2 separate regions of the Homo sapiens genome follow, and region 2 is linked to region 1. Evidence: fine-mapped expression QTL. Tissue or cell type: blood mononuclear cells. Region 1 holds a variant in brackets; the other region holds the start of a gene. All regions are shown on one strand. Distances are between the middles of the regions.

The links. PIP is the estimated chance that this variant, and not a neighbour inherited with it, causes the effect.
Region 2: OXR1 starts here. The variant in region 1 is fine-mapped to the expression of OXR1 in blood mononuclear cells (TOPMed, PIP above 0.99).

The regions. Positions count from the first base shown.
Region 1 is chr8:106,766,885-106,772,069 of GRCh38, forward strand. It overlaps ABRA (actin binding Rho activating protein), which reads right to left and starts at 3,360. Exons shown (of 2, transcript NM_139166.5): 1 at 2,639-3,360. The coding sequence starts at 3,306. The variant T/A (reference allele first, on the strand shown) is at 1,924.
Region 2 is chr8:106,267,568-106,272,795 of GRCh38, forward strand. OXR1 (oxidation resistance 1) reads left to right here and starts at 2,623. Exons shown (of 17, transcript NM_001198533.2): 1 at 2,623-2,800. RefSeq lists silencers at 2,348-2,597, 2,618-2,977.

The DNA of each region.
Region 1 (5,185 bases):
CAGGATTACCAAAGTAACCATGATTCAAATCTAATTGTCTCTTATTCCAAGCGTAGGCATTTCAACACATTAAGAAGGTGCCCATGTGCCAGCCTGATTTGGGGAACCCCAAGATGGGTCCTGTATCCCACTCCCCACTTTTAGGTGAGACAGTTTACTCAGAGCCAGAATGACTGAGTTCAAATTTCATGGGCTGTAAAATCTCATACAAATTCCCTAATATTTCTTCATCTCCTTTCTCCATCTATCAAAGAGGGATGATGATTATAACCTATCATATGAGGATATTGTGGGATTAAATAAATAAATATATGAAAAGTGCTTAGACAAGTGCCAAAGAATGTCTAGCTCTACTATGCATTCAGGATCGGTCCCAGCTGTCACCTCCTTACTTCTAGTTAATTTAAAATGTGCTGAGAGAAAGATCTTGTCATTGTGCCCCCTCAGTCTTTATTCTTTTGGACCCCGTTATTCCATTTCTAGCACACATGTCCCAAGATCCAAAAGGCCAGAGTTTGGAATATGGTTCCTCATGTTCGGATAGCATAGTTACTTCTGATCATGAACTCCTACATTAAGCACAAATCCAGACCTCTGAATGCATCCTCAAGACACTGCATGAAGGTTGGAACCATGTCTGGTTTTAAAACATTGCATTTGGAGTAGGGCACGTCTTAGCTTTGTCACTAATTTGCTGGGCAAACTTCCCCTCTGAGCTTTGGTGTTCTTATCCCTGAAATGAGTGAATAGCTACTCAAAGGATTATGAGAAGTGAAGCGACAAAGCATTTAAACACCTACAGCACACACTGAACACGTGACAGATTATTGTAATTACCCATTTGCCATTTTATTTTTCTTGAGAGCTGGCAGTGTAGTAGTTCTAATTCTTTCAAAACACCTTTACAGTCTCAAACTATAAGACAGCTCTTTAGGCCGCGTGCGGTGGCTCATGCATCCCAGGACTTTGGGAGGCCGAGGTGGGTGGATCACCTGAGGTCAGGAGTTCGAGACCAGCCTGGCTAACATGGTGAAACCCCATCTCTACTAAAAATACAAAAATTAGCTGGGCGTGGTGGTGTGCACCTGTAATCCCAGCTATTCAGGAGGCTGAGGCAGGAGAATCACTTGAACTCAGGAGATGGAGGTTGCAGTGAGCCGAGGTCGTGCCACTGTACTCCAGCCTGGGCAACAGAGTGAGACTTCATCTCAAAAAAAAAAAAAAAGGAACAGCTTTTTGTCAAATTAGGTAACAATTTTTTTCTTTATTTTCTTATTGTTTCATAAGACTTGAAAAACACACTTGCACATCAAACTGTCCCCAAAGGGAGTCAGTCTATAAATGTAATGACATCAGACATTTTTCTTATATTTTGATACCCTGGCATTGTGGAATAAGAAATCCTGACTTTCTACCATGTGGAGTTACTGTCTTGAAATAAAGCACGTGTTTCTTGTCTATATACATGTTTCAGTTTGAGTAAATGTGTATGTGAGTGTATGTATGTGTATTTACCATCTAGATATTTTAATTATTGCTGTATTTGTTTACAAATAGGACAAACTGTTTTTGAAAATTTGAAAAGTTGCAAAGTAACCAAATCTATGTGAATAATAATAGTTTTCGTGTATTGAGCATATGTGACAAGCTCTGTGTTTGGTAGCCCTAATCTCATTTACGTTTCCCAATACAATAGAACTTCTCCCAAAAGCTTACTGTTGCTGTCATTTTACAAATGAGGAAATCTGCTTTTTTTAATTTTTATGTGAAACAGAGTCTTGCTGTGTTGCCCAGGCTGGAGTACAGTGGCATGATCTTGGCTCACTCCGACATCAGCCTCATGGGTTAAAGCCATTCTCATGCCTCAGCCTCCCGGGTAGCTGGGATTACAGATGCACAACACTGTGCCTAGCTATTTTTGTG[T/A]GTTTTTTGGTAGATATGGGGTTTCACCAATGTTGGTCAGGCTGGTCTCAAACTCCTGGCCTCAAGTGATCCGCCCTCCTCAGCCTCCCAAAGTGCTGAGATTACAGGCTGAGCCACTGCGCCCAGCTGATGAAATCACCTTTAAAAATGACTAGTTAGGGGCAGAACTAGGATTTGAACTTGGGTCTGTCTGACTTCATTCAGAGCCTGCTTTCAAATTAGACAGCAGCCTCCACCTGTTTAGAGTCAGAGATTTGTATTCCATGGGTGTTATTGAAGCAGACGTATCTCCTGATAATAGCATAGACATTTGGGACAAGGTAAAAGTTTCCCCAATGAGTCTATCAGAAACCACTCTTATCTCTAAAGAAATAAGCCAATTTGTTACTCATTATAGAACTGACTTAAAGAATTCACGAAAAACAGGCTTCCCTCTCTGATGGCTTCATCTTTGTTGAGGCTAAGACTTGAGTGTTCAGTTCAAAACAAAAACGAGAAACAAAATAGCGCAGGCCCTGACCAAAAGGTCCATGTCTAAGGTTGGCACTGACCTTCAGCCCAGGGACATCCCTCCTCTACAGTACTCACTGCCTGTCCAGTCTTTGAGATTCTCACTCTAACCCTGGCAGGACTTCATCTGCTGCCTGGATTCCCAGACTTGGTTGGGGCTCAATAGTGATCCTGACACAAGGAGTGGGAGAATGCATTCACTTACTGGGAGGGCAAGGGGCGCTTGATCCTGACCACAGCCACCTGCACTCCATCCTGCTCGGGCCTCTCCTCAGCCTCTCCTCCATAGCCGCTGTCCTCTGTGTCTACGCTGTCACTCCTCCATGTGGGCTCCTCCTGCTCCATCACTCTCCAGCCCTTGGTTAGCTCAGACACCAGGTTGGCACATTTTCTCCTCCGCGTTGGGGAGCCGTGGCTGTGGAGGATTCTGTCAATGTCATTCTCTGGCTGCCCAGGTTCAAGCACACCAGCATCCCTCTCGTACCTGTGGCTGAGGTGGCTCACGTCCCCTCCTCTCTCATAAGTCTTGCTGACCACCGTTTTGGACACCTCTTTCTTTTTGATGTGAGAAACCTCAGGGGCTTTCTCTGAGCTTTGTCCATCTCCATGTCCTTCTGGCAGGCGGGGTGGCGACTTTGGGGCACTCTGAGCTTTCTGGTGTGAAGTAGGGGGTGTGATTGGTTTAGGAGCTTGAGGTGAGTCCTGGGTCCCTCCCGGCAGCCAGCCTGTAGGCTCCTGGGCCTGCCTGATGCTGTTCTCATTCGCCCACTGCTGCCAACCTCGGGCCAAGCTGATGACCAGGGTGGCTGTGCGTATCTTCCGGAGGGCGCTCTTGGCTGGGCCCTCCCCGCTTTCCTTTTCGCCCGGAGCCATGCTGCCCACCTGTCTTTCTCTGCTGATAGCCTGGACACTGGCTAAAATGAGTGTGGTCCAGTGGAGTGCCTGGGATTTAAATAGAAGCAGGGTGCGGGGTGGGAAGGAGAGCTTAGTGACGATGGAAACTATGTGAAGCATTTCTTGCCAAGATGTGGCGCCTTTGCCCTGATGGTGTTCTTTTTATAAATCATGACAGCTCCAGTTTCATCACGGCAGAGGGACATCTCTGCTGGTAAGGAACAGTGATATGCTCACTCTCTTCTCCAAGTGCCAGAGTGGAAATTACTAGATCAAGTCATGTGCTCAGCCTTACGTTTGTCTGACCTTAATATGGTCCTACCATTTATAGGTGCATACATATTATCCTGGGAACATTATAGGATTGTTCCCACTTAAACCCCAGCAGCCCTCAGTACAGCTCCTAATTAGTTCCACTTTATAGCTAAGTAAAATAAAATCTAACTTCCAGCAGCTAATAAAATATGAGATTCAAATCCATCTCTGTGTAATTCAAAGCGTGTGCCTCCTTTTATTCCAGTTATCAAAGATCCTAAGTTGCCTTTTTCTTTTTCATTCAACTCCATTAGAAATAGACCTTAGAAAATCAACTCATCCAATCTTCATTTTCCAAATGAGAAAATTGAAGCCCAGATACGAGAAAGACCAAAGTCCAGATAGTCAAAGACTAATTACTTTCTAGTCCCAACTTTGAACTATTGTATAGATAACTCATATTAAAATACAAAAAGGGAGTCAAAATTTTGGTCCAATCATTAAAAAATGTTTTTAAAACCTGTATACACATTGGATTTTAGAAATTATTATTGGAGGCCGGGCGAGGTGGCTCACGCCTGTAATCCCAGCACTTTGGGAGGCCGAGGCGGGCAGATCACGAGGTCAGGAGATCGAGACCATCCTGGCTAACATGGTGAAACCCCGTCTCTACTAAAAATACAAAAAATTAGCCGGGCGTAGTGGCGGGCGCCTGTAGTCCCAGCTACTCGGGAGGCTGAGGCAGAAGAATCCTGTGAACCCGGGAGGCGGAGCTTGCAGTGAGCGGAGATCGAGCCACTGCACTCCAGCCTGGGTGACGAGCGAGACTCCGTCTCAAAAAAAAGAAAGAAAGAAAGAAAGAAATTATTGTTGGAATACATATTTTGAAATACTTTGTTTGAAAAGATCATCTAAGGACAGAATTCTAAGGACAGAATAAATGAAAGCTATCGGTAGCTCACTTCTTATCCCCATCCCGCCTACCCTTACCGTTTGGTTTGTGGTTGTTGTTTTGTTTTGTTTTTTGAGATAAGGTCTTGCTGTGTCCCCAGGCTGGAGTGCAGTGGTGTGATGATGGCTCACTGCAGCCTTGACCTCCTGTGCTCAATCAGTCCTCCTGCCTCAGTCTCCCAAGCAGCTGGGAATACAAGCATGAGCCACCATGCCTAGCTAATTGTTTTTGTTTTTGTTTTATATAGACGGAGTCTCGCTATGTTGCCCAGGCTGGTCTCAAACTCCTGAGCTTGTGCAGTCTTCCCACCTTGGCCTCCCAAAGTGCTGGGATGACAGATGTGAGCCCCCACGTCTGGCCCCTTTTGTTTTTAGTAACACAATCTTCCTTAGCAGGACTTTATGTTCATGTAGGCAAAGACAGTTTTTCAACTCTCACAAGAGGGACTGAAATATAATATTTTTTTAAAAGGACTGGAAAGACAAGCATGTGGACAGAAAGAGAAACATCTATGCAGTGTATTAAACCAGATAAAAATGTCCAGGGCTCAGCAATGAATAATTTCTTAAAGTAAGACGGAATTTTTTTTCATTCAACAGGTCTGTTGGCTTTAAAACTATATCCTTTCCTTCAGTCTTGCATGCAAGTAAC
Region 2 (5,228 bases), 500 kb before region 1:
GCTGTCCTTTTTTTGTCCATGGGGAAACAGGCCAGTCTATGAGTTTACTGGTTATCCATTATTTCCATCTTGCAAACATCCCCTATTCCTTCTTTTGCTAACCAAATACTTTTTTCCCTTTTGAGAATCTTTCATCCCCAAGAGGATGCAGGTGGTTGATTGTGTGAGCCAGGACAGCCAATAAGAGTACACCTTCAAAGATTGATCTGCTCAACAGAACAAGAGACTTGATTTCTTTGTAAGGTTACAAAATTTGTCAACTGTGTAGGGCTGGCACTATGGACATAATGTGAGGGGAATGAAACCAACACAGGAAGCAATGCCGAAAGCAAGTTAGAGAAAGAGAAAATCATATTCTTCCTAATGTTGTTAAGCCCAGGACAAGCCCTGCTATTTCTAGTACTTCTGAGTTACACGGGTCAATGCATTTTCTCTGCCTAAGTTAGAATTGCATCCCTGTCACTTGTTACTTCGAGTCCTCAATGCAGTACGTTTTTGAGCTACACTTTTCCATAGGACACCAAAGAGACTTTGAAATCAAGATTTTCCCTGTTTCATGATTATGGGTAGTGTGCATGCTGTAGCATGAAGATGTTCAGAGTGCCATACCACCTTAAGAATAATTACTGAAAGAGGAAGAATGAAAGCAACCAGGATGAAAGTAAAGTTTATTTTTCACCTTCCTTCACCACTGATAGAAAGGAATGATTTGTGTTGATAGTCTAAGGAAATTCACATTTTGATCTCCCAATGAATCACCTATGGAAAATTAGAAACATGATGTTGTCATTATAAAGTGGCCCTGGTCCTGCAGATAATATTTGCAGCTTCAGTAAAAAAGTAAAAGATCAAACCTTAATTGATTACTTATTTTGGGGTGCACATGGCACTAAATTGCAAGTGGGGATGGAAGGGCGCAAATATCTTAGGAGGGAGGACATCTTGACCCAAATAGACAGATTCCACTACAGTTCTATGAAAAAATCACATGTACATTACTTAGTAGGGTTAGCAAAGTCTAACTAATTTATAATACTGGGAAAACAAAGTAGCTTTATCACAGAGTCTGAACTGAGATAATTATAAAATACATACCTAGTCTATACATTGCTTGTAGAAGATTCTCAGTAAAATCTTTCTGATAGAATAAAAATTAAACGCTATCAGTTTCAACATAACAGAAAATTTAAGCTGCGAATGCTCGTAAAGAAATTAGGTAAAAATAATGGAGAACAAAACCCGCAATCGGCTTATCAATCGGCTTACTGTTGACACGCCACGCCACTCAGAATAGTATCTAATTTTCTTGATCCCTTATCTCAGGTAAAGCTATTGACTCGGGGAAATAGGTTATGCGGAAACCATGAAAGTTTCTAGTCTGGCCGACCCTAGGTTCAACACTCTATTATTCCAGACAAGCGATGAGCTCCTGTCGCTAAATTTCAACATCCCTGTCTGTCAAATGGGAATAATAATGATTCTCTCATTGGGTGGCTGTGAGAGGTGAGTGAAACAAGACGGAAATTTGACCCAGGAAATATCTGTACCTCTTACTTTAAAGAACAGAATTAAAAAATAATAATAAATGATCAGAAATTAAGGTAGAATAGAGTGAACACTAATAGCGGGAAATAGCTAATTTGCAGGTGAGGTGGCTGAAAGGCTCCTACGCTTGAAGTGTTTGCTGGATGCACAGGAGATCTGGGATACATCCCGAACTCGGCAACAGGACCAGCTCCTTTCCTCAGGGTTACAGAACAGCCAGGTTCCAGTTCAGGTCTGGGAATCTACCCATCCAGAGTTTGCGCCCTTTTCGTTTTGCAATTTAAAACCGGGTTGGAGGGGGAAGGAGTGAAGGCAGCATGCGGAGAAAGTAAATTACAGTTCAGGTGACAGGAACAAGAAAATCTCCAAGGTCAGGGTGGGGTGTCAACGAATTATGCAAAACACTGCGGAATGAGGAGTCACAAACGCCTTGCAAAGAATTCTGAATTTTAGAAGCTCTTTGCAGAACCCCCTTCAGCCCGCTCCAAGCTGCCTTGGGTCCCTTTCTAGGCTGTCAGACTTCGCCTTCCTTTCCTCCTTGTTTTTCCCAGCAACCAAAGCATCTGAAGAACATTTTTTTCCTCCGTAAATCTGAACAAATTTCCTTGCAGCTTTCCTTGCAGAAGCTTTTTTATCGCTTTAACAAAACTTTCCTCTGCTTCTCTAGGGAGAGCCTAGTATTAGAGCTGCCCGACAGGCGGGACCCCGAAATCGGGGCAGCTCTGGCTTAGTCCAGGCTATTCGAGTGGGCGCCTGAACTGGAGGCGCCGTCTCCACCGGGATGGGGATCCTAGTGCAGGCAGACGCCTGGCAGGACTCGGCGAGCTGGGGTCCCCACCGCGGTAGCCAGAGCAGAAACCCGAACCCCAGCCAGAGGGGCCGCGCGCGGGGAGGGGTGCGCGCTAAGCCAGCGTGGCTTCCGCAGGAGCTATTTTTAGCGGTGCGTGCCTCCCCCCGCCCCCGGCGTGGTAGCCTCCGGCTCGCGGCGCCCCACGGCTCCTCTCAGTCTCCCCCGCCGCTGCCGGCTCTTGGTAGCTTCCACGCGGGCAGGTCCGGAAACTGAGCATGTCTGCAAGCGCTCAGCGGCGCCGGCAGCAGCGGGGCTAGAGCTGGGCTGCGTCAGGCTGAGCCCATTCACCTCGCGGCCACAGGAGCTCAGCGCCGGCGCCGCGCCGCCCAGCCCCGCCGAGAGGGGCGCACTCGCCGCCGCGGGGCCCGCCGCCGCTCACCGCAGCCCCCTCCTGGCGACCCGCAAGTAAGTTTGTGAGGCTGCTGGGCGTTAGGGCGAGGGCTTGGCGCCCGGGGGAGTCCAGGAGGGATAGCGAGAGGCGCGGCTGGCGCCCGGGAGAGCCGGCTGGCCTCTGCCCCCTGTGCCTGGCGCCTCTCCGAGCCACTTAGCCAATTTGAAAGCGGGTGGCCATTGGGATGCTCGAGCGGGGACGACGGGCAGAGCAGGAGGGCAGAACTAGCTCCAGCGGGGGCCCAGAGGGCGGACTTGGGAAGAAGGAAAGACCGCGCGGCGAGGGAGGAGACCGGGCGGCGAGGGAGGAGACCGGGCGGGGAGGCTGGGTTTGGGGCGCGGGAGCCCGGCCAGGGACAGCCGCAGAAGGAAAGTGGGGGTGTCGCCGGGGGATAGAGTGGGAGCAGCGTGAGAGCAGTGTTGGGGGCGCAGAGTGGAGGGCAAGCGTGTCTTGAACAGAACGGCAGGAGGATGGGTGGAAAGTGGGGCGCGTGGAAAGCGGATTTGGACGAGAGCAAAGGACGCCGGTGGAAGGGACAGTGGGCTCCGGAGGGGCGAGTGGATTCGGATAATTTGGGGAATCAGTAAAAGGCTAGGGGGCACATCATGATGGAGTCAGCCTGGAATCTGTCTCCCGCTAGAGTACCCGAGGCCACATGTTGGGAACTGGCTGGGGAAAGGATGGATGTAGAAAGTGGCCTGGAGGGCCGACTGGAAAATCGCTGAGGGATTTGGGTGAAGAGGGGGGGAGCTGTGCAGTATCGGGCGGAGGAACTGGGCTGCTGGTAGGGCCTGAAAGGTTCAGGAGAGGGTTGGAGGCTTCCCCGTGCCGCCCCTTGAATAGTGATTTAGTACTGTTATCTGAGGTTCACTTTCACCCCTGGCTCCTCCTCCGTCTACTACCCGGCTTGGACGCACCTCGGCTCGCTGTAGGCGAGCTTTAGGAGATTTAAATAGACATTAGGCAGTGGGGAAGGTAGTCGTTTACGGGGGGAGCTGCTCGGGCTTCCGTTCAGTGGTTCCCGGCACGCTCAGGGTGCAGTGTAGGGTCTGAATGTGTGTATTGCGGGGGTAGGGGGAGTGGTGTCAGTTCTAGGCCACAGGAATTCGTGGTCTGGCCCCAGAGGTGCGGTGTTTTTGGCCGGGAAGTCAGGCAGAAGTCTGCAGCGTGCAACTCGCAGCGGGGCGTGTGTGTGCGTGTGTGCGCGCGCGTGTGCATGTTTCCGGCCCGGGGTCGCGTGTGTGGCTGCAGCCTGTCTCCGTGACAAGAAGATCCAGGGATCTACGGGCGGCACGGGGAAGGGATTAAGGGGAACATACTTCCCTACGTCTTTTCTGCCTCCTTTTCCCAGGGTAGCATTCTTTGCTTATCCAATGATGCCTCTTTCTAACCTCTCCCTCTCCACTTACATCCCAAACCTGATGCGGGTCTTCTCTGATTCGGCACTCTAAGGAGGACTCAGCCGCCGGCTGCGACCACCGTGGACTCCCTCTATGGAAGGGAATCCTGGGAGTCCCGGCCGTCAGAGGGGTTCCCAAATCCAAAGGGTCCATCTCCAAGGCGTCACTCCAGGGGTCCGCGGTTCACTTTGCTGCCCCTTGCAGGTGATGCTGTGATTGTTGCCTGCGGACTGGGAAGCACGATGGCTCCAAAAGGCCAGCGGGGCCGAGAAGCAGGGACAGAGACCAGCATTTAAGGGATCTCTGGTGGGGGCCTCCCTGGAGTTCTCCACATGTAAATATAGCGAAAAAAGAAAACACTACGTTACTAGAATAAACACGTCCTAAAATTTCTGTGCAAAAACACCTTTTTGAACAGCAAAGATTTCACCCACCAAAACAAGGAAGCAAGAAGCTTCCACAGTGTGCAGGATCCGAAACAGGACCGGCCCGGCGTTGGGTGAGAGTGGGGGAGGGGTTGTCGGCTTCTCCATCCAGCTTGCCATGTTCTGTCGTCGGTTTCACATTTTCAGAGAGACTTTACCAGATGCAGGAAATGAGGATGAAGGCAACTCTGGAAGGATGCAAAGAAGGGAGAGCAAGCACTGTACCTACTGTCTGCTGTCTAAGAGGGCTGGTCTCATAACTAAAAGGTCCAGTCCCTGAGATCTTGTGTGCAACCGTCAGAAATAGTTCAGGACATCAAATTGCACAGAGAAGATTCAGATGAAGGGAAACAAGAACTCTGTGGAAAACTGTTGGGGACAGTGGCACGAGTTGTCTTGCAAGGTGATGTCTGTCCCGTGGAGGGACACAAGAGCGAGGACAGCATGGTTCTAATGGCCAGGGCATGTCTTCTTATTCCATGTGACAGTGGCTGGCTGAGTTGCTAGTACGTTTTTGAAATATACCCTTTGAAATATGTTGATTATTCTGGACATCTGTAAGGTGGGAGATTTGAATAAAAAGACTTCTGCTGTCATTATTGGCTTTTATGGCTATG